Regions from separate parts of the Homo sapiens genome. Here regions 1, 2 and 3 are each linked to region 4. Evidence: fine-mapped expression QTL. A gene starts in region 4. Each other region holds a variant in brackets. All regions are shown on one strand. Distances are between the middles of the regions.

Region 1 (8,103 bases), 21 kb after region 4:
CACCTCCCAGGTTCAAGCAATTCTCCTGCCTCAGCCTCCTGAGTAGCTGGGATTGCAGGCGCCCACTACCATGCCCTGCTAATTTTTATATTTTTAGTAGAGACAAAGTTTCACCATGTTGGCCAGGCTGGTCTTGAACTCCCAACCTCAGGAGATCCACCCGCCTCAGCCTCTCAAAGTGCTGGGATTACAGACATGAGCCACTGTGCCCAGCCGATTTTTTAATTATTTTTTTGAGACAGGGTCTCATTCTGTCTCCCAGGCCGGAGTGCAATGGTGCAATATTGATTCCCTGCAACCTCCGCCTCCTGGTCTCAAGTGATCCTCTCACCTCAGTCTTCTGAGTAGCTGGACTACAGGCACATGCCACTATGCCCAGCTCATTTTTACATTTTTTGTGGAGATGGGCTGTCACTGTATTGCCTAGACTGGTCTCCATCTCCTGGGCTCAAGGGATCCTTCTGCCTCAGCCTCCCAAAGTGCTGGGATTACAGGTGTGAGCCACTGTGCCTGGCCTCCTAGATTGTTTTAGCACAACAGATTGTCCCTGAGCCCCTCCTGAGGTGTTTGTGGTGCCTGGGATTGGGGAGGCAGGGCCCATCCAGGTCCTGTGGCCCTAGCGGGGAAAGACAGTGCCCAGGAGAGCTCAGCTCCCAGCAGGAAGATTTCTGATTTCTGTTACTTTTTATTCTTTTTTTTTTTTTTGAGACAGAGTTCCGCTTTTGTTGCCCAGGCTGGAGTGCAATGGCATGATCTCGGCTCACTGCAACCTCTGCCTCCCAGGTTCAAGGAACTCTCCTGCCTCAGCCTCCTGAGTAGCTGGGATTACAGGCATGCACCACCACGCCCAGCTAATTTTGTATTTTTAGTAGAGACGGGGTTTCTCCATGTTGGTCAGGCTGGTCTCGAACTCCTGACCTCAGGTGATCCACCCGCCTCAGCCTCCCAAAGTGCTGGGATTACAAGTGTGAGCCACCGTGCCTGGCCACTTTTTATTCTTTTTTTTTTTTTTTTTTTTTTTGAGACAGAGTCTCACTCTATCTCCAGGCTGGAGAGCAGTGGCGCAATCTTGGCTCACTGCAACCTCCACCTCTAGGTTAAAGCAATTCTCCTGTCTCAGCCTCCTGAGTAGCTGGGATTACAAGCACATGCCACCACACCCAGCTAATTTTTGTATTTTTAGTAGAGACGGCGTTTCACCATGTTAGGCTGGTCTCAAACTGCTGACTTCAGGTGATCCACCTGCCTCAGCCTCCCAAAGTGCTGGGATTACAGGCATGAGCCACCGCCCCCTGCCAGTTTGGCCTATTTTTGAACTTTAAATAAATGGAATCATCCAGTGTGTACCTTTTATGCTGGGTTTCTTTCACTCAGTGCTGTGTGTGTGAGATTTTCCTTGACGTGAGTAGCTGTAGCTCGCTCATTCTCATTGCTCTAGGTAGAATCCCATTGTGGGACTAGGTGATAATTTACCTGTTCTGATGATACGCCTTGGGAGAGCATCTAGTTTGGGGTGTGCTATGAATTTTTTTTTTTTTTTTTTTTTTTTGAGATGGTGTCTTGCTCTGTCGCCCAGGCTGGAGTGCAGTGGCGCGATCTCGGCTCACTGCAAGCTCCGCCTCCTGGGTTCAAGTGATTCTCCTGCCTCAGCCTCCCGAGTTGCTGGGACTACAGGTGCCTGCCACCACACCTGGCTAATTTTCTGTATTTTTAGTAGAGATGGGATTTCACCGTGTTAGCCAGGATGATCTCGATCTCCTGACCTCATGGTCCACCCGCCTCGGCCTCCCAAAGTGCTGGGATTACAGGCCTGAGCCACTGCACCCGGCCAACTATGAATATTCTAATGCCTGTGTCTTGGTGAACATCCACACACTTTCGTTTGGGTGTGGAACTGGGAGCAGAACAATAGGATAGGCAGGTGGGCATCTGTTTGGCTTAAATAGTTAGCCACAGGAAGGATTTAAGCAAGGTATTAGGAAGACTTCTGGACCCTAAAGGTTGTGGCCAAATAACTCATCCCCTTAAGAGGCGGAAGCTGTGAAATTTCCTTCTGGGGAACGGGAGGAAGAGGCTGGATTAGGCACTACTGAGCGACCGGGGGGCCAGTCCTTGATTCCTTCCTGTCTGGCTTTGGTCCCCTGTCTTTAGTCTGGGGTTTCCAGACTGTACTCCCTGGAGATGTCTCAGCCACGTGGGAGGATGAGGAAGGGGCTTTGAGCATCATTTCCCTGCTTTAGCCAAAGGACTCCGTGTGCTCTGTTTCAGGTCGTGGGGATTCTGAGAATGATTTTGTTTGCTTTTTGAAAAAGTTTTAGCTGTTTCGACATTGGAAAATCTACTGCCCACCGGGCATGGTGGCTCACACCTGTAATCCCAGCACTTTGGGAGGCTGAGGCGGGCGGATCACGAGGTCAAGAGATCGAGACCATCCTGGCCAACGTGGTGAAACCCTATCTCTACTAAAAATACAAAAAAATCAGCTGGGCGTGGTGGCATGTGCCTGTAGTCCCAGCTACTCGGGAGGCTGAGGCAGGAGAATCACTTGAACCCGGGAGGCGGAGCTTGCAGTGAGCCGAGATCACGCCACTGTACTCCGCCCTGGGCGACAGAGTGAGACTCCATCTCAAAAAAAAAAAAGAAAAGAAAAGAAAAAAAGAAAGAAAGAAAATCCACTGCCCCTAGGTCCCTTCCAGCTGCAAGATTCTATTTTGGGAGCAGGAGGTGGGTATGGGAAGGGTTAAGCATTATTCAGCCAGAGAGCGGAGTTGAGCCTTGGTGACCTTTTAAAGTTCTTGTAGTGTGCTTTGTGCTGTGGGAGATCCCGTAACATTCTATAAAAATGTAGTGTTCAAACCAAACAGCGACTTCTGAAGCCTAAAAGATGTAGAGGAAGGACTTAACTTTGAGGAACATTTAGGTAGAATTTCCACCAGTCTTGAGGACTCTCAAGATAGCCCTTTGTCCACTCCTCTGTGGTGTGTGTGTGTTTGTGTGTGTGTTTTAACGTCTCCATTGGCTGGTGGCTGGTCCTAGGAGCAGTCACTTGAAGTTGTTTGGGTCCAGAATGGTTTCCATTTTTATCCAGTAGTGTGTGATGTGGGCCCCCTTGGTGTCCCTCTCAAGGGTGGGTGGTGGCCTTTCCTCCTCCCATACTAGGCCCAGTTTGGACCATGGTTTTGCTTGGCAAGGAGGCTGGGCCGCTCATGGATCCAGAGAGGAACATTTCTGCCTTGGCACACAGCTCTGAGTCAACAGGCCTGATAAACAGCTCGTTTCCCAAAGGCCTGCAAGGAACAAAGCCCCTGGCTGCTGAGGGCTCTGTCTACTCCCCATCTCCTGAAACAGCTGTTTATTCTTTCGACAGGAGTTGAAACCAGCACCTTCCCTTTCTCTGAGTCCTGCCTCCTTCTGCAGAAGGGAGCTCAAAAGAACTTTGTTGTTTTGCCTTTTACTCTGGGGTGAAAGCGGCAGGAGGTATGTGAGATGGTGAAATGATTTGCTTCTGCCATGCTGGGGTCACGGGTGGATCGCCCTAAACTCTCGGTGGCCCCCTCAGTAGTTTTGGAAGAGGACCAAGTCCTTGTCTCTCCAGCAGTGGACCTGGAAGAAGGATGCCGGCTCAGGGACTTCACTGTAAGTTCAGCTTTATTTTGCTCCCCTGGTAGGACCTCACAGGGCTGCAGCCAAGCTGCAGCCTGGAGTTTTTCCTGAAGGATTTAAGTTGTTAATGCAGGAGCAGGGGGCAAGTCTTGGGGCTCAGGGTGAAGTTATGGATGGAGGCAGAGCCCTCTCAGAATTGTGTAGCATCTTTCATTTATCTTACTTTGGTTCTCTGGGAAAAACCCTTGCAGTGATTTCCAGACCAGGCAGCATGGAAAAGCTGGCTGGATTCAGCCTTTAGATTTCCCAAAGGGGATTCGAGAGAAAGCACTGTAAGATATACTTCAGAGAACAGGTCGTTCCATTTGAGATGGCTGGAGCGACAGTGGGCCATGTATTCAGTCTGAGACCTGTCTCTTATTTTCTTGTGTCTGTTTACTCTGACCCTTATAATGAAAAACAAAACTGGAGACAACCTTCCATGCACTTCCCCTGCTTCCCCGTGAATTGTATCGTGGAAGCATTTCCTTGTAA[G/A]ACCCACCAGCTCACTGAGGTTTTAGGATAATAAGGCACTCTTCCTCCTTACACCCAGCACCATCCCTATGCCAAGGGCTGGGCCTGGGAGGCAGGCATTTTAAATCTGGCACCAAGACTTCTGGGCATGCCCAGTGATCTCTGGCAAGCTATGCCCCTTTGCTAAAGCTCAGTTTCCTCAGCTAAAAAAGCCACACTAAGGCCACCGCACTGACCATTGTGAGGAATAAACAAGATGCTGTGAGTGAGGACACCCCACAACACGCACACAGAAGGTGCCTGGAAATGCTAGGAGAGTTGAGCTGATGCTCACCAGCTGGTCCAAGGAAGAGCTGGCCCCACAGCAATTAACCCATGCAGAAGACTTCATGTTTTCTAGAGCAACAGAGTGGTTAAAAGAGAGGGCACTAGAGCCTGGCTCCCTGGATTTGAACCCCAACTCCACCACCTTATGCTATGTGACACTAGGCAAGTTACTTCACCTTTCTGAGCCTCTGTTTTCATATCTGTGAAATGGGGATAATAATAGAGTAACTTCACTGGGTTGTCATGGGGCTTAACTAAGAGACTCCTGAAAAGGGGTTTAGCCCAGGGTCTGGCCTGGCCTGGCTTGACTGGGGAAAATACAGGTGTTGCAGGGTTTGAAGCTGATTCCATTTGGGGAGCCCTCTTTAAGAAGAAGAATGGGCTGGCCGTGGTGGTTCATGCCTGTAAATCCCAGCACTTTGGGAGGCTGAGGCGAGCAGATCACGAGGTCAGGAAATCGAGACCATCATGGCCAACATGGTGAAACCCCGTCTCTACTAAAAATTAAAAAAAAAATTAGCTGGGCGTGGTGGCGGGTGCCTGTAGTCCCAGCTACTCGGGTGGCTGAGGCAGGAGAATGGCATGAACCTGGGAGGCGGAGCTTGCAGTGAGCTGGGATTGTGCCACTGCACTCCAGCCTGGGTGACAGAGCAAGACTCCGTCTCAAAAAAAAAAAAAAAAAAAAGCAAGGTTGCAAATGCAATGTTAGGTATGAAAGTAAGTATCTGGAATATGAGAAGTGATATCACAACAAATAACAAAGACTGACAAACATTCCAAATATAACAAAATCCAGAAAACAACGACATAAGAAAATGATGTAAAACTAATACAAAAATGATTAGTATTACTTAACTGTCTGATACACCTGTCATGTTTGGGCTACATACTCTTTGACTGCCACATTATCTGACAACAGTTTTCTAGAATCATTTCCAATAAAAGAGAAAAGACAGATAAATCAGTTTTGCCTGTGGCATGGTTAATCAATGGGTGCTTTTTATTACTGAGAGTTTAGAGCAATTTATTTTAGCTTCCCAATTTGTTATTGGCGATGCCACTTCTCTAAGTCATTTGACAGTTTCTCAGGTGGCTCCAGCCAGATCATGAGAAAACTCAGCCCTGGATCCTTGCTAGGCACAGTGAGGCAGACGAACCTGGGTGGAGCACGAGGTGGCTGTGAGACCTGGATCATAGTGACCCCTGAGCAGGGAGCAGAGAGAGTAGTGTGTAGTTCATCTCCTTCTTCTTGAGGCCAAAGGAGGAGGGGCCCAGGTGCTCAACAAGGTCCACCTGGGACCGGTTGTTTCTGGGACCTAGGTGGGTGTGCAGGTAATGGGTCAGCACCCCAGCTCAGCCTGCAGCCCCTGGACAGGCACTGAGGCTAGAGAGTGACTCTCCCAGGCAAGGCAACACTCTACCTCTGGGAAGCATTTGGGGCTTTCTCATGCTCACCCTAATGGGAAATCAGGCCCAGTCTTGCAAAGGGGCTTGTGCACATGAGGACCCTGACACCTAAGCGTCATTAGCTCCTGGTAAGTCAGCCTCTGCATTCAGCGCATATTGGTTGGTGGTTCCTATGCATGATCTGAGCCAAAAGGCTGAGAAGTGATAGTTGATGAATCCTATCATTTGATCATCACACCAAGGGGCCCGTGTAGGTCACTGCAGCAGGGTGAGCTCTATGTGGCTAAAAGAACTGCCCTCAAAAAATGAGGTTTACATCCCTGAGGCTGATTTCTCATGCACATCCTGGGTTCATCAGAGAAGAACTGGGGATTACTGGGGAATCTTAGCTCCAAAGGACTTGTTTCTGGGCCAAGGAGTCTGAGGCCAGAGAAACTCGTGACGCCAGTTTAGAAAGCTGGCACTGTGTTGGTGCTGGGGCTGACCTGCAGGACTATGACAAGGCTGGGGACAGGGTGAGGCAGGGGTGGAGCAAGGAGGTGGGGTGGGGTGCAAATGGAGGTGCAGCTGGTCTGGTCAGAGCCGTGTTCCTGGGATAGAGCAGGGCATGGAGCTGACTTTATCACAACATGCAGTTGGCGTGTGGACTCGCTCCTGACTGTTCTGAGAGATGCTGCCCATCAAGATTCCCCTCTCAGATGAACTCACAGCCCTGCTTTCACACCAAGCTCTGAGCCATGCATTTCTGAATTTCTCCCATTAAAAAGCATCATCATTATTATAGGTACTGTGTGGGGGGCATTAACAGACCATGGGCACAGTATGCTTTCAAGAACCCTTTGAGGAGGGTGTTAGAATCTCCATTTTGTATATGTAAATAGAGGCTCAGAGTGTTAAAGTAAGTGGCCTAAGGTGTACATCTAGGACTCTGCTGATTTAAGAGTCTTTGCTCTTAGCCTAATTTTTACCTGGAATGCTGGAGCTGAACACTCTCCTTTATAATCAAGGATCTGGAGGACTTAAGACTAGAGTCTTGTCCAAGGTCAGTAATACCCAGTTAATTACTGCACCCTTCCCCATTCCCTTACCTGTTTTCCTTCTCTTTGTTCACTGTCACTACCTGACATTATATATCCTGTTGAGTCTCTTGACTCCCATTGGAACAGAAGCTCTATGATAATCTTGTTCAGTAAAGCATCTCCAGTTCCAAAAACCATCTGGAGCACAGTAGCCTAGTCCATGTTTGTTAATGAATCCATGGCAGAGCAGAACTGGAGTGCCTCAGAACTCTCCTTACTCATTTGTTCACCCCAAACACTTGTGTTACAGGAAGGGGGTCTGGATCCAGACCCCAAGAGAGGGTTCTTGGATTTCACTCAAGAAAGAATTGAGGGTGAATCTGTAAAGTGAAAGCAAGTTTATTAGGAGAGTAGAGGAATAAAAGAATGGCTGCTCCATAGGCAGAGCAGCCCTGAGGACTGCTGGTTGCCCATTTTTATGGTTATTTCTTGATGACATGCTAAACAAGGGGTGGATTATTCATGGCTCCCCTTTTTAGACCATATAGGGTAACTTCCTGACATTGCCATGGTATTTGTAAACTGTCATGGTGCTGGTGGGAGTGTAGCAGTGAGGAGGACCAGAGGTCACTCTCATCGCCATCTTGGTTTGGTGGGTTTCAGCCGGCTTCTTTACCGCAAACTGTTTTACCAGCAAGGTCTTTATGACATGTATCTTGTGCTGGTTTCCGGTTTCATCCTGTGACTTAGAATGCCTTAACCATCTGGGAATGCAGCCCAGTGGGTCTCAGCCTTATTTTACCCAGCTCCCATTCAAGATGGAGTTGCTGTGGTTCAAACGGCTCTGACACTTGGGATGCTCCTACTGGGAGCCAGGGCCTGTGCCAGTCTGGACCCATCACAATAGCCTGAAAGTGATTAAGGCTCAAGCGGAGGACGGGTGGGCTCTAGGGGCCTGATGTAGGAATCTCAGGCTGGGAGGAGAATTCTTTAGCCTGCGGAGAAGGCTTGGTTTCTCCTGCCACCACTTTCACCCTGCCGGATTCCTGCTCTCTGAGATAATGGCTTTTCCATGGCATCTGAGTGCATGGCATTCAGCTGAGAGGTTCACCTTTTCCCCTGGCACGAGATGGAGAAGATAGGATCTGCTAGAATTCCTTTCAGAGTGGAATTCTGTTTGGAACGAATTACCTTGACTTCGCCCTGTTGGGGTGGAACTGTGAGATTCTCAGAG
Region 2 (8,103 bases), 37 kb after region 4:
AAGTGCTGGGATTACAGGCGTGAGCCACCATGCCCGGCCTCTTTTGATTCTTAAATTCTAAGATTTGATGATCTAGGAGGACTGTCTTGGTTACTAAAAATGGAACCGTGCCTTTAGGTGCATCAGTAGCAGAAGAACTCTCCGAATGCTGGAGCCATTAGTCCCTGTGGTGCTGCACAGATGTAACCATTTCTGGAATGTTGCTTTGTTTCATTCTGCACAACTCATTTTAAGAAAAACATGACAAACTAGAGTGTGACCAAGTTAAAAGGGTCTGGAAACTAGGTCTTTTGAATTGAGAAAACTGAGGGGATTTAGTTCAAAGAAGAGATGACTCAGAGTTTTGTGTGGGGACCCTGGAACTCTCTTAGGCAACTGAGGGCTGAGGACGTTTCCCACTCAGACTCTAGAGCTAGGCTGCTCCTTGGGCAAGTTGCTCAGCCACTCTGTTCTTGTTTAGTTTCCCTATCTTTAAAAATTGGGGATAATAGGCTGGGCATGGTGGCTCACACCTGTAATCCCAACACTTTGGGAGGCCAAGGAGGACAGATTGCTTGAACCCAGGAGTTCAAGACCAGCCCTGGCAAAATCGCAAGACCCTGTCTCTACAAAAGTAAAATTAAAAAGTTAGCCAGGCATGGTGGTGCGCACCTGTAGTCTCAGCTACTTACGACGCTGAGGTGGGAGGATCACTTGAGCCTGAGAGGTTGAGGCTGCAGTGAGCTGTGGTCCTGCCACTGCACTCCAGCCTGGGTGACAGAGTAAGGCACTGTCTCAAAAAAAAAGTTGGGGGAGGGATTATAATAGTACCTGCCTCATAGGGTTGTTGGGAGAATTAAATAAGTTATTGTGTATAAAGCACTGGGAAGCAATGCCTAGGGCTTAATAAACAATAAATGCTAGCTGTCATCCTCCTCCTCCTCTTCCTCATCATCATTTTAGTTCAGGCCACTATAACAAAGTACCACAAGGTGGTTTAAGCAACAGGAATTTAATTCTTTCAGTTCTAGAGGCTGGGGAGTCCAAGATCCCCAGTGAGGGCTCTTCCTGGCTGGCAGATGGCCACCTCCTCCCTGTATCCACACGTGATGGAGAGCAAGTAAGCTACTGCCTCTTCCTCTTCTTGTAAGGACACTAATTCCTTCATGGGGGTCCTACTCCCACGACCTCATCTAAACCTAATTACGTCCCAAAAGCCCCACCTCCAAATATCATCGCACTGAGGGCAGGGCCTCCACATACGAATTTTGAAGAGATACAACATTCACTTCGTAACAGTCATCATCATCATGATCTGCTCCAGAGGGCAGAACAAGAAAGATTTTGGTAAATAGAAGAGCTCTAGCAGTTGGAAGAGTCCAACAGAAGAACAAGTACCCTTTGGGGTTCCTGCCTGGAGTCGGAATGTCTGCTTGGATAACCTTCAAGCTCTGAGTTTGAACACTTGATCAGATAACTTTGGTGTTTGGAATTGTAGCCAGAGTTGTATGTGCATAACTGAGCCAAAGGCTGAAACGTGCATGTATATACCAGCCTCTCTGGGCACACTCTCTCTGCATGGTAGCCAGAGCAGGTTCTGGCTGCTCTTCAGGCTAATCGTCTGGCACCTGGACTCTGGCCACAACATCCTCTGATGTGCAGAATCCACTTGAACATCTGCAAAAAACTTCAAGGGGAGGAGTTGTTTTTTGTTTTTTTTTTTTTGTTTGTTTTGTTTTTTTGCCACTTTACGAATTGGCCACATGATAGGTTGAGGTGAGCCGAGGACACAAACCTTACACAGGTAGGCAGCACTAAGCTAAAATGGATTAAAAATAACTAACTCAAGCATGTCAACCAATTAGTAAATAGAAGAATTGTCAGTAAAGCGTATTGAAAGAATATCATCTAGGATAGCATTTGATTTCAGGCTGGATGAAAAAATAATCTTCGAATTTTAGAGAATTAGAGGAAGCCTTCAAAATTATGATGAAATATTCATGATAGTGGTGATCATGATGGGAACTACAAGTTATTGAGGGCATGTGCCAGGACCCTTGCTATGCATTACCTCCGATTCTTTTTGTTTTGTTTTGTTTTGTTTTTGTTTTTGTTTTTGTTTTGAGATGGAGTCTCAGTACTTTGGAAGGCTGATGCAGGCACATCACTTGAGGTCAGGAGTTCGAGATCAGCCTGACCAACGTGGTGAAACCCCGTCTCTACTAAAAATACAAAAATTAGCCAGGCATGGTGGTGTGTGCCTGTAGCCCCAGCTACTCAGGAGGCTTAGGCAGGAGAATTGCTTGAACCCAGGAGGCAGAGGTTGCTGTGAGCCAAGATCGTGCCACTGCACTTTAGCCTGGGCAACAGAGCAAGACTCCATCTCAAAAAAAAAAAAAAAAAAAACCTCAAGGAGGCAAAAATTATGTTTGGCTTGGAGGAGGATCCATTGTTCTGCATCCATTCACAAATATTTATTGAGTATCCACTATGTACCAGGCACTGTGCTAGGATCATATCAAGCAAGGCATTGAAAAGGTGGCATTTGAGTGGAGGCTTAAAGCATGAATACATGTTTAAAAGCCACTGCAATGTGGATATTGCTGTGACCATTGTGCTGTTGAAGGATTCTGGAGAGGAGGGTAAGGAGAAGGGTTGTTGAGGAGATATGAAAAGTTGGTGAACCTGAATCTATAAATCCATGGCCTGAGTGCCAGGTAGGGTTATGCGTGCTAGGCTGCAGCACTTGTAGGGGCTTAAGAGTCTCACTGCCTTCATTAGTTAAAGAAATGCTTTTGGGGGCTGTTCTATAGAAGGCTCTGAGTTGGCCATGGCATTAGGCTCTGCAGTTGATGCTTTTTTTTTCTGGAGGAAGATAAATCCTGGGGGAAGGATGTCTGGGCCACGGCATTTCCGTCCTTTCAGGGCCTTCGTCATCACCAGGCACCTGAGTAGGTGGCAGGAGAGGACCCATCTCTGCAATGGAGAGCTGTCTTCTTTTTAAAAGAGCAAACAAACAAACAAAAACAAAACAGAATTTGAGGCCAGGAGTGATGACTCACACCTGTAATCCCAGCACTTTGGGAGGCCAACGGGGGTGGATCTCTTGACTCAGGAGTTTGAGACCAGCCTGGGCAACGTGACAAAACCCCGTCTCTACAATACACACACACAAACACACAATTTGAGATTTTGCAGAAAACTGTTTCCCCTTGAGATCCTGAAGTGGAAATTTCCATCCTCCTGATGTCATTGGTTATGTCTCAAAGGAAGGTAGAAACCAGGAAGCAGCTAAAACCCAGGCTCTTAGCTCAGCCCCGGGCTCAGTGATAATGGTTACAAAATCGCCTTTCTCAGAATTAAAAGTAACATGATATGTTTTTATTTCTTTTTTGCTTTTAGCACAGAAG[G/A]CTCTTTCTTGTGGATATATCACTCAAAGTAAGTGCTTTGAATTCTAGATTTCTAGGGGATGTTTCCCACAGCCACTCTGGCACCCCCTACAGTCCATTCTTCACACGGCAGCCAGCCATGGTGTTCGGCCAAAGTCGGAGGGGTGGGTGGGTGGATTCCTGGGGATCTGGAATGTTATTTCTGCAGCTTCCGTAGACTTATCTGTATAGAACCATGGCTTGTATCTTGCCCTCAGTTCTCCTCAAAGTTCTCTTAAGCAGTGTCATTTGGGGAACATTCCTGTCTTGCTGATAAAAAGTATCCGGGGAGATATTGTCTATTATTCTGCCCTTTAAATGTTATATAAAGACCCATATAAGAAATTGCTCTAAGAATAAAAATCAGGAAAAAAATTTGAGCCTCTTGAGAAACTAGTGTGTATCATTAAAATTTTCTTTTTGTATTTTTTGAAAAGAAAATGAGAGCCATGTAAACCTTTATATTTCCAATGGTTGGGTTGGTTGTCAGAAAGCTCAGAACAAAGTATTGCACTTAACTGCTTGTACTTACCCCAGCCTTCATTTCTGATATACTTTATCCCCTGGTGTGAAATCCCGGCTTTTGTGCCCACATGTCATGTGCCCTTGGAAATTTGCTGAAATCCACCCAGCCAGTATCTCAGCTCTGAAATGAAAGTAAAGGTGAAACTTTTCTTTGGGATGACTGAGGTCATGTGAAAATATATACCTGGGTGACGAAATCAATGTATCTCTTTCTGTTCTCTCTTGTGTTTTTTATTCTTGTGTTGTTTTTCTGTTTATTGTACCTACGTATTGGAAGCCATCTCAAACACTTCCAAGAGTTAATAGGCTTTAAAACAGATTTCATAATATTATGCCTGTTCATGAGTTAGCTCACCACCGTATTTGTCCATCGGACTTTCCTCTTTCCCCATCCTCCAGAAGGCACCCACCTTTTCTTTTCTTTCTTTTCTTTTTATTTTTTTTTAATTTTCTGAGACGGAGTCTTGCTCTGTTGCCCAGGCTGGAGTGCAGTGGTGCCATCTTGGCTCACGGCAACCTCCTTCTCCTGGGTTCAAGCAATCCTCCCGCCTCAGCCTCTTGAGTAGCTGGGATTATAGGCACCTGCCACCACGCCCGGCTAATTTTTTGTGTTTTTGGTAGAGATGGGGTTTCACTGTGTTGGCCAGGCTGGTCTTGAACGCCTGACCTCAGGTGACCAGCTGGCCTTTGCCTCCCAAAGTATTGGGATTACAGGCGTGAGCCACCGTGCCCGACCCCCCACCTTGAAGAGACTTTCACAATGAATGAGTGTGGAAACTTTCTCAAATGGGTGGCTACAGTGGCTTCTAAGTAGTTTCCTGAACTTCTTGCTCAGTGACCCTCAGATTTCCTGAGGCTGTTACTGCTAACCTTTGGGCAACCCAAATTTTTCTCTAGACTTTTACAACAATCTGAATTCTGCTGGTTTTAGCTAAAGAAACATGGAAACATGCATCGGTTTTTCATGAAGCGTATAACTTGTTACAGTCATTTTCAACTCATAAAGCTCTTATATGTATGCTATTTCATTCAGTCTTCAAAATTACCTTCATGGTAGGTCTGTTATTAGTACTATTAACTATACTTTTTGGAGGAGAAAGTCAAAATTCAGAGAGGGAAAATGTCCTATCACAGTCACACAGCTAGTAAGTGGCAGATCTAGAACTCAGGTTTATGCATTAATACCACCCCCACTCCAGCCCCCTTTTCCCTTCTCTTCCTCTAGGGCCCCCAGGATGAGCTGAGGGCTGGGGGCTACCCAAGGGAGGAGAGATTGAGGGAGTCTCAGGTCTGTTCTCTCTCATTCAGCTAGAGTGTCTCATTTCTGTCTGTTTTATAAATTGGCATTTTAAGGTTTTTTATTTTTTTAAAGTAATCTCGGCTATAGAAAGAATTTGGAAACCCTAAGTTTGGGGACACCACATTTTCTAAAAATATTTGTAAACTTTTTCATTTCTTAGAAACCCAGAAGTTGATGACAGCAGTGCTCAGAAGGGCTGGTGGTTTCTGAGCTGGTTTAACAATGGGTAAGGCGATCAGACAGCAGTCGGTGTTTGCCCACCCGCCTGGTGCTTGCAGAGGGTCCACACACAATGGTTTCATGTTCATGACCTTCTCAGTCACTCATCTTTCTTGCTTATTGAAATTATATGAAGAATATTTTGTGAGTGGGACTAGGACATTTGAGGGTTGGTTTTGTTTTTGAGACAGGGTCTCACTGTCACTCAGGCTGGAGTGCAGTGGTGCAAACATAGCTCACTGCAGCTTCAAACTCTTGGGCTCAAGTGATCCTCCTGCCTCAGCCTCACGAGTAGCTAGACTACAGACATGCACTACCACATCCAGATAAATAAGTCTTTTGTTTTGTTTTGTTTCAGTTAACTTGGGGGCTGAGGCTTGGGCTGAAGTTTATTTATTTATTTTTATTTTTTTGAGATGCAGTTTTGCTCTTATTGCCCAGGCTGGAGTGCAGTGGCGTGGTCTCGGCTCACTACAACCTCCACCTCCTTGGTTCAAGTGATCCTCCTGCCTCAGCCTCCCAAGTAGCTGGGATTACAGGCGCCCGCCACCACACTCGGCTAATTTTTGTATTTTTAGTAGAGACAGGGTTTCACCACGTTGGCCAGGCTGGTCTCTAACTCCTGACAGGTGATCTGCCCACCTTGGCCTCCCAAATTGCTGAGATTATAGGCGTGATCCACCATGCCTGGCCTGGGCTAAAGTTTAGATTGCAGGAAAGACAATCATAAACTAAAATGTTCTTAGAAGAATTGTCTTATCAAGTTTCCCTCACCCCCCCTGAAATAACCTGAGGGTTGCTGGGTCATTAAATTGTTAACTGTGGTGACTTGGAAGGGTAATGAGTTGAGTACTGCATCTTTTCATCAAAAATATGTCTTTATGAATAAACGCTTAGTGCCTAGAGCCTTTTTCTGGTCAGTTCACTTAGTGCATGCATAATCTGCCTTGGAACACATTTCCACAAGATATTCACCAGTTCTCTGACCACCGCAATCACCTTCCCTGCCTTACCTGGTTTACTTTCCCTTTGTACTTAGGATCCACAATTATCAACAAGGGGAAGAAGACATAGACAAAGAAAAAGGAAGAGAGGAGACCAAAGGAAGGAAAATGACACAACAGAGCTTCGGCTATGGGACTGGTTTAATCCAAAGTAAGAAAAGCGGCGTCACTCCCTGTGCAGCAAATCCATGGCCCTGCAGGGGGTGGTGTGGCAGTGGAGGCAACAGTGCCATTGAGAACATTCCTGATTTAGGAGAAAGAGCCTTAGCATATTAGACCTTTAACAGTAGACATATGTATATGTGCATCTATTTGATTGTGATGTAAAGTATATTTCTCACTGTGAGTTATGGTCAAAAACACTGTGCTAGGCATTGTGTTAGGGAGAGGAGACAGGAGAAATCAATCAACATGGTTGTATTTGAGAAGTTCATGGTCTCACAGGGGTCGTTACTGTGAAACTATTATTTGCCTAGATTGGTAGGAGGCAGGATCAACTGGAAGGATGTGGTTCTGGGAGTGAGGAGATGGGAGCTGTCCAGGGTGACTTTGAGACCTGAGAGACTGGTGGGTGATGGTGCCATTGGCCAGAAAGGGGACTGGAGGAGGAGACACAGGCCTCAGAGCTGGGGGAGGTGGGGACCTCCATTAGGAATGCATGTGGATGCAGGTGCTTATGGGACATCTGGACAGAGTCACAGGGTGCTCCTGAGCTTAGCAGATGGTATGTGCTGGAGATGTGCAATGAGGTATCATCAGAGTAATCAGGAGAGAATGGAATCCTTTTTTTTCATTTGATTTTTAATTTTTATTCATTTTGAGACAGGATCTTGCTCTGTCACCCAGGCTGGAGCGCAGTGGTGCAATCGTGGCTCACTGCAGCCTTGACCTCCCAGGCTTAGCCTCCTGAGTAAGGAGGCTTGGTGTGCGCCACCACGGCCAGCTAATTTTTAATTCTTTTGTAGAGACAGGGTCTTACTATGTTGTCCAGGTTGCTCTTGAACTCCTGGGCTTAAGTGATCCTCCCACCTTGGCCTCCCAAAGTGCTGGGATTACAGGTGTGAGCCACCATGCCCAGCCTGAAAATAGCATCTATCCCATTGTGAAGGAGCTTGGGCTCTGGAAAGACTGAATATGTTCTGGCAACTTCTCTTATTGTTTGGGGATAAGGGATCCATGCCAGTGTGAAGGGATGGGAATTTTGGCTTCCCATATGTCATTTGATGATCTGCACAACAGGGTAGGCATCTCTGAAATGCTAAACCACTCATAGAAATGTGAGAAGATGGAAGCATTGTTGCTTTGATAAAGCCCCTTAGATGGGGCAATGAGACTCCGCCAGGGACAGGCTAGATGGGCCAGAGATGGTCCCCAAAGTCCCTTCTAAGGAGAATGGGGCAATTTTACTGTGGTACTTGTTCTTTGCTGAGCAGGACTTGGGAGGTGGGGCTGGGGCTGAATGACTGGGGGCAGAGAGGAGGGACAGACCATAGTCACCAGCTTTCACCCTCTTCACTCTTCCCCTTGCATGGCTTCATCTCCAAATGAGTAGGGAGCAGATATTTATTTTTAATTTATCTTATCTTATCCTTTATTTATTTATTTATTTATTTATTTATTTATTTATTTGAGACAGGGTCTCATTCTG
Region 3 (8,103 bases), 130 kb after region 4:
TCCCAGCTACTCGGGAGGCTGAGGCCGAAGAATTGCTTGAACCCAGGAGGCAGAGGTTGCAGTGAGTCGAGATCATGCCATTGCACTCCAGCCTGGGTGACAGAGCAACATTCCATCTAAAAAATAAAAAATAAAAATAAAAAATAAAGGAAATATGGAACATCTACTCTGATTTTCAAACTATATATAAGTATCCTTCAAATAACAACTAGAGGAAAAATTCACCAAAATTGTAATAGCAGTTTTGTTAGAGGTGATAAGAAATTCTCTCTTCAAAGTACTCACAATTTTATATGTCTCCATTTAAAAAGCATAATGTTATTTATTTATTTATTTTATTTTATTTTTTGAGATGGAATCTCACTCTGTTGCCTAAGCTGGAGTGCAGTGGCATGATCTCCGCTCACTGCAACCTCCGCCTCCCGGGTTCAAGCAATTCTCCTGCCTCAGCCTCCCAAGTAGCTGGGATTACAAGCATGCGCCACCATGCCCGGCTAATTTTTTGTATTTTCAGTAGAGGCGGGGTTTTACCATGTTGCCCAGGCTGGTCTCAAACTCCTGACCTCAAGTGATCTGCCTACCTCAGCCTCCCAAAGTTCTGGGATACAGGCATGAGCCACTGCGCCTGGCCATAAGGTTCTTTAAAAAAAATCATTCTAACTTCTAATCATTACTGGGAGAAAATTTAAGATTAAAAATCCTCCAAAAGGAGAAAGGGATGTACTAATATTTGTTTTTTTCTAATCTTAAGAGTGAGAAATTGATTTTTAAAGTACATTTAATCAATACATTTATAACAGAATATGCACGAGAAAGCCAGAATACACCAATTTCATGGGCAAGTGAGAGTAAGCATATTTAAATAAAAAATTGGAAACTCTATTCTAAAAGCAGTTTAAAAATCAAGTCAAAGCTTGTTCTTAGTTTAGGGCCAGGAATTAGTTTTAGAACTGATGCAATCTGAAACCAGAGCCAAGAAGTGTTTACCAAAGTCTTTACCCCAAAGGGAGACACTTCTAATTCTCCAGAAGGGACACTACACTGTTAAGATTGTCTTGAGACTTGGGCTTAGGTAACTGATAGGGGTACACATATTAAATTCATTTTGAAATACCATTTTCCTTTCCAACAAAAATGAAACCTAAATCCTTTTTCACAATATGCAATTTGTAATCAAGGCCTCCTCTACCGAAGGGTTTAATTAGTTTCTTGTGTATTTGCTCCTCTTTCCTGGGAATGACAGGATAAACGGGAAGTTTATGTCTCCAGGGCTTATTCGTTACAGAATGGAAAAATGAAGCTATGGACTTTCTCAAGGATGATTTAGAGAGAAGGGATCATTAAATTACTGTACTCCCCTCCTTATCTTCTCCAGAAGGCTAACAAAGTGACTGCACAAGCTGCACTCCATCCCAGGAATACAAACAGTTCTTGGCCAGTATTTGACTAAAAGTCAACTGCAAGCTCTGAGTCAGGTTTTGATCACACACTGGAGCCTGTTCCTGCAAGCAAAGATCATCTTAATGCCTCTCTTAACACCTGTTGTGTCTGCTCCCGTTTCCGTCCTGATAGTCACAAAGCTCCAGAGCTGTAAAATCAGAGAGAAAGTCTACCATTTCATATGACCTAAGCACCACAAGGTGTTGGGTAGTACACAGCCAAATATTGAGCACATTAAGAAAGAAGTGCTCCTCCTGAGGGAGATCTTTGTGGTAATGGAATAGTTCTGTATCAATTACTGTGGTTATATCAATCTACACATGTTAAAATGGCACAGAACTATAAATACATTTTGTGCCACTGTCAATTTCCTGGTTTTGATACTCTAGTTAAGTAAGACGTAACTATTGGGGGAAACTGGGTAAAGGGGACATGTGACCTCTCTGTACTGTTGTTGCAAATTCCTGTGAATCTGTACTTATTTCAAAATCGAATGTTTTTATAAGTGCACCTTGTGTACATTAACATACTTTGAACATTGTGCAATAGAACAAGTCTAATGCAAACACAGCCTACTTTCCAAATATGAGGTCTTCAGCCACACCCCAAGAGAAGGCCTGAGGTTGGGAATGCCCTTGCACATGCTTTTCCCTCTACCTGGGATACCCTTTCCCACCTCCTGCACCGCTTATTCCCCTTCCCCAGGCTGGCTCCTTCTCATTTCTCAGGCGACATCTCAAAGCCCCTTCCTTACAGAGGTGTTCCCCTGTCCTAACCTTTGCTGTTCTCCGAATATTCCACTCCTTTCACAGCTTCCTTCACCATGTGTAATGATTCAATTACTTGTTTGTGGCCCATCTCCCAACTAGAGTATAAGGTAAACTCCACGAGGCCCTTAGCACACTCCCTGCCACATGGAAGATGCTCCAAGAAGATTTTGTTTGAATAAATGACCCCACCGACTGAATGGACTCCCTTGTGGCCAAGGGGACTCCAGAAAACTTTAAAACTGAGTTCCCAGCCAATGACAGGACAGAAGGTCAGACTCGCCTCATTATAACTTCATCGTATTGGAGTTTAGACACAACAGCTGACCAGCATTAACGTTAAAACACAGATCATAAGACTGACAGAACAGACTGTTTGTGACAATAAGATACCAAATTATAAACAAATTATACCTAAGGTCATGCCAGGCAAAGGTTAAGGCACACATCCCTTCACTTAGAGAATAAACTGTGTTCTAACTGCCACAAGGTTGTTCTCTTTCTCTAGCAGCTTAACAAGCACTGGCCTCGAGATAAGCAATATTAAAACAATTTGCAGCTCCACCAGATGTGGCCTAATGGAACCCCTATTCCACCAGCCATCATTACAGCTTTAATTGGACAAGAGGCTGATTTCAGTAACTTTCTCCTCATAGGAAAACTACCGACCATGGACTGGCTCTGGCTAGTTTACACAGACTGCATACTTGCACACCTTCCTGTCCTGAAAAGACCTTTTGACGCATGGGGTCTAACTGTAATACATGTATTGTTATTATTTTTTAGAGTCCATCAGGCTGGAGTGCAGTGATCTGATCATACATCACTGCAGCCTCCAACTCTTGGGCTCAAGTGATCCTCCTGCCCCAGCCTCCTGACTAGTTGGGACCGCAAGCACACACCACCCCACCTGGCTATTTTTTTTTTACTTTTTGTAGAGATGGGGACGTCACCATGCAGGCCAGGCATTTAACATTTAATTGGTAACTCTTCACTCCAAAATGAACATGGGTTGTATGTTACATGCATGTTTGCTCAATGGGCATGCGTCAGGACCACCCTCATGAATATTCATAGCTCCTCCTGTCACCTGCTGAATATGCATGTCTACCCAAGCTGTTCAGCATAAAGCCGCTACTCCAACCCCTCCTCCAACGAAATGCCTGTCTCTGGTCCTGGCCATTCTCCAGCCTGCGGAATGGCCACCTTGCAGGCTGTAACCCCTTACAAGAAATAAAGTCTCCTCTCCTGTTTTTTTGTTTTTTGTTTTGTTTTTTTGAGACGGAGTCTCGCTCTGTCACCCAGGCCATCTCGGCTCACTGCAACCTCTGCCTCCCAAGTTCAAGCGATTCTCCTGCCTCAGCCTCCCAAGTAGCTGGGATTACAGGCGCGCGCCACACGCCCGGCTAATTTTTGTATTTTTAGCAGAGACGGGGTTTCACCATGTTGGCCAAGCTGGTCTCGAACTTCT[A/G]ACCTCAGATGATCTACCCGCCTCGGCCTTCCAACGTGCTGGGATTACAGGCGTGAGCCACCGCGCCCGGCCTCCTCTCCTTTTCCAAATTTATACATTTTGATTTTCTTAACACACCTCACTCGAGTTCGTTCACTTCGGCTGCGGCGTGATCTGCCGGCCCTCTCAGCTCAGGCTGACCTCAGCGCCCTCACTTCGGCCACTTCTGTGTCCCTCAGTCTTCTCCCCTCAACTCGGACCTCGCGCCCTCATGACAGGGCGCCATTTTCTTCCCTCTAACTCCTCAGCCCAGAGGAGGCGCCTTGGTCCCGTACCTCTGCCCGGCAAGGCGACTTTTCTTCACTTGCACTTTTGCCTCGGGTCATCCTCTGCTGCTACCTCCCCACTATCCTCACCATCTGCTCCACGTCCCGTGGCTTCCGCCCTCCCTTCCGGTGCAGGGCCCCGGCCTCATACCCACAGCCTTGGGGGCTCTCGCCCCTCAGGCCACGCCCCTCAGGCCACGCCCCTCAGCCCACAGAACTAGCGGGAAGTGACTGCGAAGCAGTCGCGCCGTGGAGGGACAGGAGGGCGGGGATTGGGAGGTGGGTCCTCCTCGATCCTGGGCGTTGATTGGCCAACTCTCACGAGGGCGGGACCTCGATTGGGGGCGGGGCGGCAATCTGGGTCTTGTGCCTCTGGCTCCTCAGGGCATTCCCGGCGGCTCCGGGTTTGGCAACGAGGACGGGGGAGTGCGACTGCGTCTCGGGCAGCATGGCCGAGAAGCGGCACACACGGGACTCCGAAGCCCAGCGGCTCCCCGACTCCTTCAAGGGTGAGTCCCGCGTCCCCTGACCCTCCCCCGTGGACCGAGCCCCCGCCCGCAGCGTGCGCTCCGAGGTCTGACAGCCGGGCTCCTGGCCAGTCTCCGCTGCTTCGGGCTGGGCGAGATCTCAAAGCCGCGGCTCCTCCCTAGTAAACTGAGCATCACGAACCCTGTTTGGCAGACTGAGGTCACGATGGAGGGGTGGCGGGCTGCCAACGGCACGTTTCCCATCGCACGGGCCCTGGTTATCTCGCGGCCGCCAGATGCCAAGCCCCATGCCAGGGCTGCACTATCTCGTGTCACGCACGCGGACTAGGAAACGCAGAGGGAACTGGCAGCCAGCGAGGCGGGGACCGGGACCCCACATCTCACCCTTTGCCCACTCCCCTTCTTTCCCGACTCACTCTCTCGAAGGCCGCCTCCTCCACCCAGCCCTGGCCTGGCCCCAGGGTGAACCCCCTCCTCCCCCAATCCCACCTCCCGAAACTTAGACCGATTTGCAGAAGGAAGAAGTCTCTCTGGCTTTCTTCTTACCTCTCTTTCTAGCTCCACTTTCTGCCCCATTTTTCCCCCTCCGCTTTCCTCTGCGTTTTGGAGAACTCTCCTTCCCGGCTTTTGTTCCTCGCCAGGAACCCTGAGTTCTCCCACCCTCACCCCCACCCTCCCTTCCCAGTCTTCAAGGCAGGAGCTGTAAGTGGCTCAGTCTCGTTCCCCTGTGGAGGAACTGGTACTCTGGGGAGGGGGTTCCAATAAAGAGAGATGGTGGACCTCTCAGGAGTCCTGGTACCCACTCAGGAGCTCTTAGTGATCCAGAGGAATTACAGTGTTTCTAAAGATGGAATTTCAGGCAGGATGGCAGTGAAAGCAATTTAGAGGGCTGGGTGGTCCTTTCCAGGACCCCTCAAAGAACATGACATTGGAGTCATCTATTCTGATTATTTGTAAAGCCAGCTTTATCCACAGCATCTTAGCTATAAGTTCCATTTCCCTTGTCCAGGGATCCCTGTGTTCAGTTCCTTCCCAGGAGCATCAAAGGAATTACAGAAATCTTTATTCCTCACTTTTTGTCTACTAATAACGTTGCAGGTTATCTTCCCAAATGGAGAGTGTAACAGGGAGGAGTTGATGAGAATAATGGCAACCACAACAACAAAAATTGAAACTAAATAGGTCAGGCTCCGTATCACTTTTTTTTTTTTTTTTGAGACGGAGTTTCGCTTTTCTTGCCCAGGCTGGAGTGTGATCTCCGCTCACTGCAACCTCCGCCTCCCGAGTTCAAGTGATTCTCCTGCCTCATCCTCCCAAGTAGCTGGGATTACAGGCGTGCACCACCATGCCCAGCTGATTTTGTATTTTTTGTAGATACAGGGTTTCACCATGTTGGTCAGGCTGGTCTCAAACTCCTGACCTCAAGTGATCCACACGCCTCGGCCTCCCAAAGTGCTGGGATTACAGGCATGAGCCACCGCGACCCCCCCAGTGCCACGTATTTTATGTATATATTATTTTATTGAATCTTCACAACAGATGATGTGGTAGGTATTCTTATCCCCATATTATACTTGATGAAACTGATAGTCAAAGAAGTTAAATTACTTAAAGTCACTTAGTTTGTATTTAAATCTAGATTTGACTGATTCTAAAACTTGAATAGGGAAAAAATGGGTGGTAACTGCCTCTTCGATAGTTAGTTGTCTTTTCCTAGATAAAAAGGTGGGTATTAGCATGCATTCCTCAATACCCTGACCTCCTGGTGGGAAACTGCAGTGGCAAATCTGCTTGGAGTTCTTTGAGAATCAACATGATCTTTGTACTTAATGTTTATTTACAGACAAGTGGTCATAGATGAGTTTTTAACTTCCAGTTTTTTTCCTTGGTTCTACACTTAACTACTGTTTAGACAGAAATCTTTCAAGATCTAATGAAAACCACCACTTCCTCTCAAAAATTAGACATACAAATAAAATTTTGCATAGTCTGTGTTTTTTTAATGTAAACCTAACAAATTTGACGCTACTAGGAAAGGTATTGCTGGAATTTATTAAATAGAGGTTATTGAATGCTTTCCCTGTGCCAAAAGACAGTTTAAGTGCTTTACAAACATTATCTAATTGCATTCTGTAACAGCTCTACAAGGAAAAAGTCATTATTCACCATTTCACAATAAGGATACTGCGGCTCACATGGCAAAATCACAGTTTCTAAAATTTTCAGCCCTGTTTCAAACCCCGGCTATCTGATTTTCTGAATCATTTTCCCTATCCCAGAGATGGATACCAAAATGTAGAACCTTGTCTAACTTCAGTACTTTACTTAAGTTGAGAGACAATAAACAAAAAAAGCCTGGAGGAACACAGCTTCAGTGATGACTTCCAGAAGGCTGCTTGTGAAAGAAGCAGTGGAATTTTAAAAGCCTAAACTCTGCCTCTTTGTCTTTACTGAGAATTAGTCCTAGGTAGGTAAATAGCACCAGGCCTAGGGCAAGACTAGTTTTTCTTAAAGGCGATGCATTCACTTTGTAATGAAATAATGCAAGTAATTGCAAAGAATGTATCACTGTAATTAAGAGCCATGTCAACAAATAAAACCCTTTGGGAGACTGATTGTTTATTTCAGTTGTTATAGCCAATCAGATTGGAGAGAACTTTGTAACTTCTTCAATAATTAATCTGAGTTATTCCATCAGTGGTCATAAATTAACTTATGGAAGACCAAGTCTACAAAACTGGCATATTTATTCATGATTAAATAGATTTTTGGTGCCATTTGATGGTATAAATTTTACCTAGTAAAAGACAGTCACTGATTCCTAGTCATCTTTGAGGGAAAAAAAAGATGTTGATAAAGTGATACAGATGGAATTCAAAATCAGTTTTTTTAAGAAGGCATGGAAAAGCAATTTCCTGAAAACTATTGTAACTACAAAAAAAGTGAATACCCTTTCCCTGCGTCTGCCTGGTATCCTGTGCATATCTCTATCATAATGTTTATTACATAACATATTTATCAGTTTGACTCATCTGTCCCCTCCCCTCCCATAATTAAACTACACTTTTTCTTTTTGAGACCGGGTCTTGCTCTGTTGCCCAGGCTGGAGTGCAATGGTGCAGTCATAGCTCACTGTAGCCTCAAGTGATCCTCCCACCTCAGCCCCTCGAGTAGCTGGGACTACAGGTATGCACCACCACACCCAGCTAATTTTTTTTTTTTTTTTAACTCAGGGTCTCACTATGTTGCCCAGGCTGGTCTCGAACTCCTGGACTCAAGCGATCCCACTTTACCCTCCCAGAGTGCTGGGACAACAGGCATGAGCTACCAAGCCTGGCCTTTAGACCACACTTTTGAAAATAGAGATTGTGTCCTTCTTCACTGTAGTAGCCCAGTATCAAGTACATAGTAGGTATACAAAAACATTTGTTCAAAGAAAAAGGAAGCAGGCAGGGAGATAAAAATCCCCCTGGAGTAAATAACATTGTTAAGTGTTTGCCTTAGCCTTATGTTGGTGGAGCAGTTTTTCTGTTTACCATTTATTTTATTAAGTTTGTTATAACTTAAGCTGTTGATTTTAGGGCATGGCCATTATGTTTATTATATATTATTACAGATAGACTATTTGTCTG
Region 4 (8,103 bases):
CTCTCACGTTCCCTTCTGCTTCTCCGGACCAACCTTACCACTCCTGGGAATTTCTTTAAAACACCTCCCCCCAGGCCCCCAAGACCTAGGAGTTTCCCCACCTGCGTGGGGCTGAGAAGCAAGTGAGAGAGCTATGGGAACAAAACCTAGCTCTGCAAATGCCAAGCTTGTGATTGTGAGGAAGTCACTGCCATCTGGATCTCGTTTCCTCATCTATAAATTGAGGGCTGGGACTGGCCATCTCTCAGGGTTCCTGGGCTGTGTGTTTTTCTAGTTCTGTGGAAGTTTTGCACTTCCTTTATCTGGTATTTCTGTGAAAAAGGCTCATCAGACTTTGGGGAAATCGATCCTCCCCCTGCCTCCCAGCTCACTGTTACTGACATTTCTCTTCCCCACCAAGATCTCAAGGAGGGCATTTTCCCTGCCAAGAACATTCTGGAAGTGCATTCCAAACCCTGCCTGCCAGAGGCCACCTCACCTTGGTGTTTCTGACATGGAGAATCTGAGGAAGAAAGGGGAGGACAGAGGGAGGACAGGGTGAGAGAGGATGGGAAGAGGAAATGCAAGAAATGCAAGAGGTGGTTATCCAAGTCACTGGGGAGGGCCTACCAGTAGTAGGCTCCAGGTGGGCTTAACAGAAGTGTTAGGCCAGGCGTGGTGGCTCAAGCCTGTAATCACAGCACTGTGGGAGGTCAAGGTGGACAGATCACCTGAGGTCAGGAGTTTGAGACCAGCCTGGCCAACATGGCGAAACCCCGTCTCTACTAAAAATGCAAAAATTAGCCAGGCATGGTGGCATACAACTATAATCCCAGCTACTCAGGAGGCTGGGGCAGGAGAATCACTTGAACCCGGGAAGTGGAGGTTACAGTGAGCTGAGATCGAGCCAGTGCTCTCCAGCCTGGGCAACAAGAGCGAAACTCCATATCAAAAAAAAAGGAAGTGTTACCGGTGGAGGGTGTGTAGGTTCTTGGCATTCTGAGCAAAGAATTGGACAAAAATGCAGAAACAAAGCAAGGAAAAAATGAAGCAACAAAAGCAGAGATGTAATGAAAATGAAAGGCGGAGGTTGCAGTGAGCCAAGATCATGCCACTGCACTCCAGCCTGGGCCATAGAGCGAGACTCTGTCCCAAAGGAAAAAAAAAAAAAAAGACAACCTCAGAACTGAAATGTGATCCTGGGAAGGCTACCAAACATGTAAAAGGTTTACAAAAATTTGCATTGTCATGAATTATTATAATCTTTTATAAGTCATTCAACCAGTTTGCAGAGAGAGAGAGAGGGGCCAGAAGTCCAACTGGTAGGAAATTCTTACCCTAGGCCAGCGCGGTGGCTCACACTTGTAATCCCAGCACTTTGGGAGGCCGAGGTGGGTGGATCACGAGGTCAGGAGTTCAAGACCAGCCTGGCCAAGATGGTGAAACCCACCTCTACTAAAAACTACAAAAAGTAGCCGGGTGTGGTGGCAGGTACCTGTAATCTCAGCTACTCCGGAGGCTGAGGCAGGAGAATCACTTGAACCTAGGCGGCAGAGGTTGCAGTGAGCCGAGATCACACCATTGCACTCCAGCCTGGGTGACAGGGCGAGACTCCATCTCAAAAAAAAAAAAAAAAGAAAGAAATTCTTACCCTATTGTTGGCATGTTAGGTTTCTGGGTTCTTTCTCCTTGAGCGGCCCAAATGATGCTGCTCGACTGTATGCAAACAAACACATTGCCATGAATTAAGAATATTCCAGTGGCTCATGCCTGTAATCCCAGCACTTTGGGAGGCTGAGGCAGGCAGATCACGAGGTCAGGAGATTGAGACCATCCTGGCTAACACGGTGAAACCCTGTCTCTACTAAAAATAAAAGAATTAACTGGGCATGGTGGCATGTGCCTGTAGTCCCAGCTACTCAGGAGGCTGAGGCAGGAGAATCCCTTGAACCCAGTAGGTGGAGGTCAGGCTGGTCTTGAACTCCTGACTTCAAGTGATCCGCCCACCTCGGCTTCCCAAAGTGCTGGGATTACAGGCGTGAGCCACTGTGCCCGGCCTAACCATGTTTTTAATAGCCAGTGAGCATCAGGTGCTCACCTAAACATAAGGAAGGATATCAAAGTTAAATACATAGCTATTTTTGCCAACAACTCAGAAGATTTAGCTAATAGTATTAAATTAACTCTCATTTGTCAAAAAAAAAAAAAAAGCACGCAAACCAAGATCATTTTGTTTTGGCTGGGTTTATAGTTTTATAACCTTCTATGCCAAACTCTGACACCTCAAAGTATTTAGCAGAGACAAATATAAAGTCCAGACAAAAATGTATGCTGACAATTCTGAAAGCATTTCTATTTTACCAATAATTTTAAAACCAGCCTGTTTATTAAAGTTATACTTAAGTCATATGAACTTGAAAATTGCTTAGACTTATTTAGTTAATTTATGAGCACTCTTTTATTTATATGCCAATTTGGTAGGCACAAGATATAACAGTAAGTGTACCTACAAATAAACACATCTAGACATGTATATACCGACACAAACAAAGATCCAATAGCTTGGAACTGTAGCCATGAGATAGCAATACAAGCTCGCTGGTTTTACTTTGTTTGCCCCAATAGATAATCCAATGAAGGCTGTGAACTAAAATTTTGGGTAAAGTAGTTTTCATGGCAGTTTGATTTTTTTGTTTGTTTGTTTGTCTATTCATTTAAGACTGAGTTTCGCTCTGTCACCCAGGCTGCAGTGCAGTGGCGCAATCTCGGCTCACTTCAACCTCCACCTCCTGGGTTCAAGTGATTCTCCTGCCTCAGGCTCCCAAGTAGCTGGGATTATAGGCGTGTGCCACCATGCCCAGCTAATTTTTTGTATTTTTAGTAGAGACAGGGTTTTACCATGTTGGCCAGGCTACTCTCGAACTCCCGACCTCAGGTAATCCACCCATCTTGGCCTCCCAAACTGCTGGGATTACAAGCTAGAACCACCTCGCCTGGCCTGGCAGTTTGATTTTTATTTGTATTTATTTTTTATTTTTTCTTTTCTTTCTCAGTCTCCAGCCTCCCGAGTAGCTGGGATTACAGGTGCACGCCACCAGGCCTGGGGAATTTTTCTATATTCTGTAGAGACGGGGTTTCGCCACGTTGCCCAAGCTGGTCTGGAAATCCTGAGCTCAAGCAATCCGCCCACCTCGGCCTCCCAAAGTGCTGGGATTACAGGCGTGAGCCACCGCGCCCGGCCGAATTATTTAAGAAGCGAATTTCTTAGTCTATGAAAATGACGTTCAACGGCAAATGGCAAAATGAAGTTCTGACTTTTCCACCTGTAAAGTAGATTGATATGAGCGGGAGTGAGAAGACCTTGTCGCTATCAGTATAAGACAAGAGAACTGAGGGCAGCCAGTTGTGGCCACAGCAACTCTCTGAGTGAATTGCTGCCACACTGGGCACAGAAGCGCACACTCTGAAATCGAATGTTTGGATTCCTTTCTACATAATTCTACTAAAGAGTTATTCCACAGCCTAGGGGCTGCCTTAGAGCCCCGTTTGAGACACTCTGGGCTCACAGATCATGAAGTCAGTGCGCAAACGCGGGCAGACCCTGAACCAGGTGCCCAACGCCCAGCCCTCACTTCCAGAGCTCAGGACTCTCGCAAGAGCGACTCCAGCCCCGGCCTGCCGCTGTCTACATTCGCGCTCTTCCTTCCTCGGGAAACAAACGGTGGATCAGATCTCCAAGGCTCTGAGTTTCCCAGAGTTTGGCCGTGCGCCAGCGCAGCGCAGCCCCTCCCAGCAGCACAGCACAGACCCCACCCCATCCTCCAACGCCCGGGGTTCCTGCTCTATCACCTACACCACCACCACCACGTGCAGGCCCGAGAAGGCAAAAGAGGCCCAGCCACTCTCACCGGGGATTTTATCCGCCTCCCCGGCACACACACACTCTCACTCACGCACTCGCTCGCCGGCCTTCCAGCTGTCTGTGTCCGGGGCGGGGACCGGCTTGGCGCAGCCCGCTGTCAGCGCTCGCCGGCTCCTCGCGCCCCTACCCGCTGCGCTCTGCCCAGAGCAGAAGCCCGGCCGGCCGGCCCACGGGCGGGAGGACGCGCCTCCGCTCGGGCGGAGGCGGCGCGGTGGCTGATCAGAGCGCGTAGGGCTTCGCCGGGGCCGGGAGCTGGGCGCGGTCCTGCTCAGCCCAGCTCACCGCGCGCCGGCCCTCGGCGCCCTGGTTCTGCGGATCAGGTGGGTCCCGCGGGGAGCCGCCCAGGTCCCCGGAGGCCACGAGCAGGACACGGACGGGGGGCTCCGCGCTTGGGAGAGGGTGGTGAGGGAGTGGAGGCGGGCCGCTGCTCCGGCGCTGCCCGGTGTCTGCCCTGCCTGTGTCCCTGCTTTTGTTCTTGTCGCTACCTCGGTGCCAAATCGGACCCAGTTTCTGTCCCTCTGTCCCCATCCTGTGGCCGTCCCTCCCTCTGTCCAGCCTTCCAAGACTGGAGCCTGAAGAGCTGCAAGCTGAGGTTCCCCCACGGGTCCGCGGGGTTGGGGTGGGGGAAGAGAGGGGAGACGCAGGGGACACAGGATGCGACCAAGTAAGTCGCAGTGAGTGAGGGGTCTGTCCTTGCCTGTGGGGCAGGACAGAGGAATGGCTCTTGCCCAGGACAAGATAGGAAGGGCGCGCCTCTGGGAAGGGGAATCTGGGAGTGGGGGGATAAAGTGAGGGTCGCAGGAACCCCAAGGAGGAAGGGAATAGAGAGGGAGATGTCAGAGAGCTTCGGAGAGCCGAGGACTCAGTCAGACGCCCAGCATGGGGAAAGTTTCCGACACTAACTTTGGCATCCGGGGTGCCTGCAGCACTGGGGCGATGGGAGGCGGGAGTTTCCTCCAACTCTTCAAACCTTGCTCCTACTCGAAAAGGACACCACCCCGCGTTTGGAAATGGCAGGAAAACGGCTAAACACAATGATTGCACAAACTCTTGAAGAAAGTAAAAAAAAAAAAAACAGTAAAAAGAAGAAGAAAAAAATGTCAGCGCGCAAAGAGCCAGAGAAGCAGAGGGATTTGAGATTCCTCGATCTTCCCGCTGTGGCGGCCGGGAGGGACTGGGAGGCGCGGAGGGTGTGAGAGCCGCTCCTCCGGCAGGAAGGAACCGAGACCCGAGGCAGGTGTTTTGAGGCTTTGCTCTTCCTTTGCACTCCTTCGGGCTCCTGAGCAGGCCGGGCTGCCTCCTTCCTTTACCTGGAAACAGGCGTGTCTGAGGAAGCAGGAGATGTAGGGTGCAGCCCTGGCCTGCCGCTTGCTGCCAGTAAGGAACCACCTTCCCAGACAGAGCCTCAGTTTCCCCGATTGTGAAATAAGGATACTACTGGAGACCTTCCTTCCAGTCTCTGAGTAAGGAAATGCAAGTGCATGGCGAAGGAGGGCTCTGGGAGTGGGGGGTGTGGAGGACAGGGTTATTCTGCTGCATTTCTGTGCTTCTTTGACTACATCAGGCACTTTCTACCTCTTTCGGAGTTACATCTGGGTGAATTTTGCCTCCTCTACCAGATGGGGGCAGCATGTGGATCTAAGTTATCTCATTTACATGTAACAGGTGCTCAATGACTGAATAAGGCAGAGCTGAACGAGTCCCTAGGGATTGCCCAGTCCAGAAGTTTCAACTCTGTCCTGTAAGGCCCGGCATCCTGCCTCAAGGGCCACCATGGTAGGGGAGGGGAACCTAGAGGACAGGGCTCTGGCCCCTTCCCTATCTTATTTCAGACAGAACCAGTTCTGTTCTTCCTTTATCTCCTCTATGTATTGGGAAACTCCTGAGAACGTTTTTGATGTCAGATTGCTCAGATCCAACCTGATCCAGTTTTTGGTGGAGTAGCTGAGGTCCAGAAGTGTGCAACGTGATTTGGGCAAACTTCTCTAGTGGCCACACCTTACCAGGAGACCTGTCCCCTAAATCATAGGCTAGGAGCTGCCTTTGTCTGGCCATGGTGGCTCTGAGCAGCCATTTCCCCAGCTCTTACCACCAGCTCTCCTACACTCCAACTCCAGGGCCACAGGGCTGCCTTCTGGCCCTTCTGGGAGAAGAAGCCTGTGAATCTCATCCTCTGAGCACTTCCAGACCTTTAGTGGGACCATTTATGTGAGTTGGTCTCACAGGTTGAGGTAAAAAATAATGAGGTTCCCTGGCCCAACTGAGTAGACTAGGTACCTGCCTGTGTCCCTGCTTTTGTTCTTGTTGCTACTTCTATGTCAGAACGGACTCAGTCTCTGTCCCCATTCTGCGCCCGTCCCTGCCTTCGTCCAGCCTTCTAAGACTGGAGCCTGAGGGGCTGTGGGCTGAGCAGCCCCTCAGGCTAACCCATTTTCTAGTTGAGGAAAGGAAGGCTGAGAGAGACCAAGAAACATATGGGCACTCAGCAACTAAATGGCAGCTAGGATTTGAATGCAGTTCTGGCTCTAAGGTTGGTGCTTTTTCCATTACATCACCTCTCATGATGGCTAAAAAATGGCTAATGGACAAATGTCATGGAGACGGGGCAGAGGTGAGGGGAGAACAACCGAAGGAGGGGGCAGCTTTCAGTAGGGGACTGGACATTAATAGAGGTATAAACTCATAAATATAATTTTATCTGAAATGAATGTACTCTTTGCCCTGTACTTTCCTTTTATTTTAGGTTGGATATGTAAAACTTATTTTCTTTCTTTTTTTTGAGACAGTCTCCCTCTGTTGCCCAGGCTGGAGTGCAGTGATGCTATCTTGACTCACTGCAACCTCCACCTCCCAGATTAAAGCAATCCTCCCACCTCAGCCTCCCAAGTAGCTAGGATTACAGGCGTGCACCACCATACCCAGCTAATTTTTTAATTTTTAGTAGAGACAGGGTTTCACCCTGTTGGCCAGGCTGGTCTCGAACTCCTGACCTCAGGTGATCCACCCACCTCCGCCTCCCAAAGTGGTAGGATTACAGGTGTGAGCCACCATGCCCAGTTGTAAAACCTACAAATCTTACGTGTTTGATTTGACAACTCTTTTTTTTGTTTGTTTGAGACAGAGTCTCATTCTGTCTCCCAAGCTGGAATGGTGGGATCTTGAATCACTGCAATCTCTGCCCCCTAGGTTCATTCAAGCGATTCTCTCTCTCTTTTTTTTTTTTTTTTTTTTTTTTTTTGAGATGGAGCCTTGCTCTGTCACTCAGGCTGGAGTGCAGTGGCATGATCTTGGCTCACTGCAACCTTTGCCTCCCGGGTTCAAGCGATTCTCCTGCCTCAGCCTCCTGAGTAGCTGGGATTACAGGCACCTGCCACCACACTGGCTAATTTTCTTTTGTATTTTTAGTAGAGTTGGGGTTTCACCATGTTGGCCAGGCTGGTCTCAAACTCCTGACCTTGTGATCTGACCACCTCAGCCTCCCAAAATGATGGGATTGCAGGTGTGAGCCACCACGCCCGGCCTACCTTCTATTTTTTACGATTGAATTTTAAGAGTTTTTGGAGAAAATAACATGAGTCAGGGCAGAATAGGGATATGGTGATATGGAGATGGTGATATGGAGACCATTATGGGCCAGGGCTTGGGAAGGAAAGAACCAAATGGTGGTTGGAATAATGACCTCAGGAATAGGGATTTCTGGGCACTAATATGTTATGTGAAAAATAAATAGACTTTTGTGGCCAAAAGCTAAGATTTGGGGGTTGTTTGTTATGCAGCATGGCTGCAGCAAAAGCTAACTGATACACATTATATAGATGCAATAAGTGCAGATTGTGATGAAACTTTCATGCCATGATAAGGAGTTGTGAGCAATGGGGAATCAACAGAGAAGTAAGGAAAATCACATAACAGGTTAGTCTCTATGGGTCAACTGGGATTTAAAGACCTGGTACTTGTACTCTGTGGGCCAGGCAAATTCATCCATGTTCATGGCTTTAAATGCTACTTCTGTAGCATTCATCTTATCTCAAACTTTGGGCATCTAATTCACATGTTTAACTGCCCAATGGGCATCTTTGTTTTGAATGTCTCAAAGGCACTGCAAACTCAACAAGTCCAAGCTAGAATTATCTTATGGTGGCTTTCCATCACGGGTCACTGTATGAATGATGGTGCCACTAGCTGAGAGAGTAAGGGAGAAT

What was found.
Region 1: its variant is fine-mapped to the expression of GGTA1 in monocytes (TOPMed, PIP above 0.99).
Region 2: its variant is fine-mapped to the expression of GGTA1 in left ventricle (GTEx, PIP 0.97).
Region 3: its variant is fine-mapped to the expression of GGTA1 in whole blood (TOPMed, PIP above 0.99).

What each region holds. Positions count from the first base shown.
Region 1 is chr9:121,474,599-121,482,701 of GRCh38, reverse strand. The region is part of intron 1 of GGTA1 (glycoprotein alpha-galactosyltransferase 1 (inactive)); the gene reads left to right. Among named protein-coding and RNA genes, the nearest start is that of GGTA1, 21 kb to the left of the region's middle. The variant G/A (reference allele first, on the strand shown) is at 4,138.
Region 2 is chr9:121,458,607-121,466,709 of GRCh38, reverse strand. GGTA1 (glycoprotein alpha-galactosyltransferase 1 (inactive)) reads left to right here. Exons shown (of 6, transcript NM_001382585.1): 3 at 3,382-3,417; 4 at 5,393-5,458; 5 at 6,491-6,606. LOC102723324 (a long non-coding RNA gene) reads right to left here. Exons shown (of 7, transcript NR_187160.1): 6 at 3,940-4,053; 7 at 3,339-3,719. Among named protein-coding and RNA genes, the nearest start is that of GGTA1, 37 kb to the left of the region's middle. The variant G/A (reference allele first, on the strand shown) is at 3,390.
Region 3 is chr9:121,366,516-121,374,618 of GRCh38, reverse strand. It overlaps STOM (stomatin), which reads left to right and starts at 4,369. Exons shown (of 7, transcript NM_004099.6): 1 at 4,369-4,492. The coding sequence starts at 4,432. It overlaps LOC102723324 (a long non-coding RNA gene), which reads right to left and starts at 4,726. Exons shown (of 7, transcript NR_187160.1): 1 at 4,653-4,726. RefSeq lists enhancers at 3,855-3,944, 3,404-4,364. The variant A/G (reference allele first, on the strand shown) is at 3,679.
Region 4 is chr9:121,495,768-121,503,870 of GRCh38, reverse strand. It overlaps GGTA1 (glycoprotein alpha-galactosyltransferase 1 (inactive)), which reads left to right and starts at 4,027. Exons shown (of 6, transcript NM_001382585.1): 1 at 4,027-4,221. RefSeq lists silencers at 3,978-4,077, 5,427-5,721.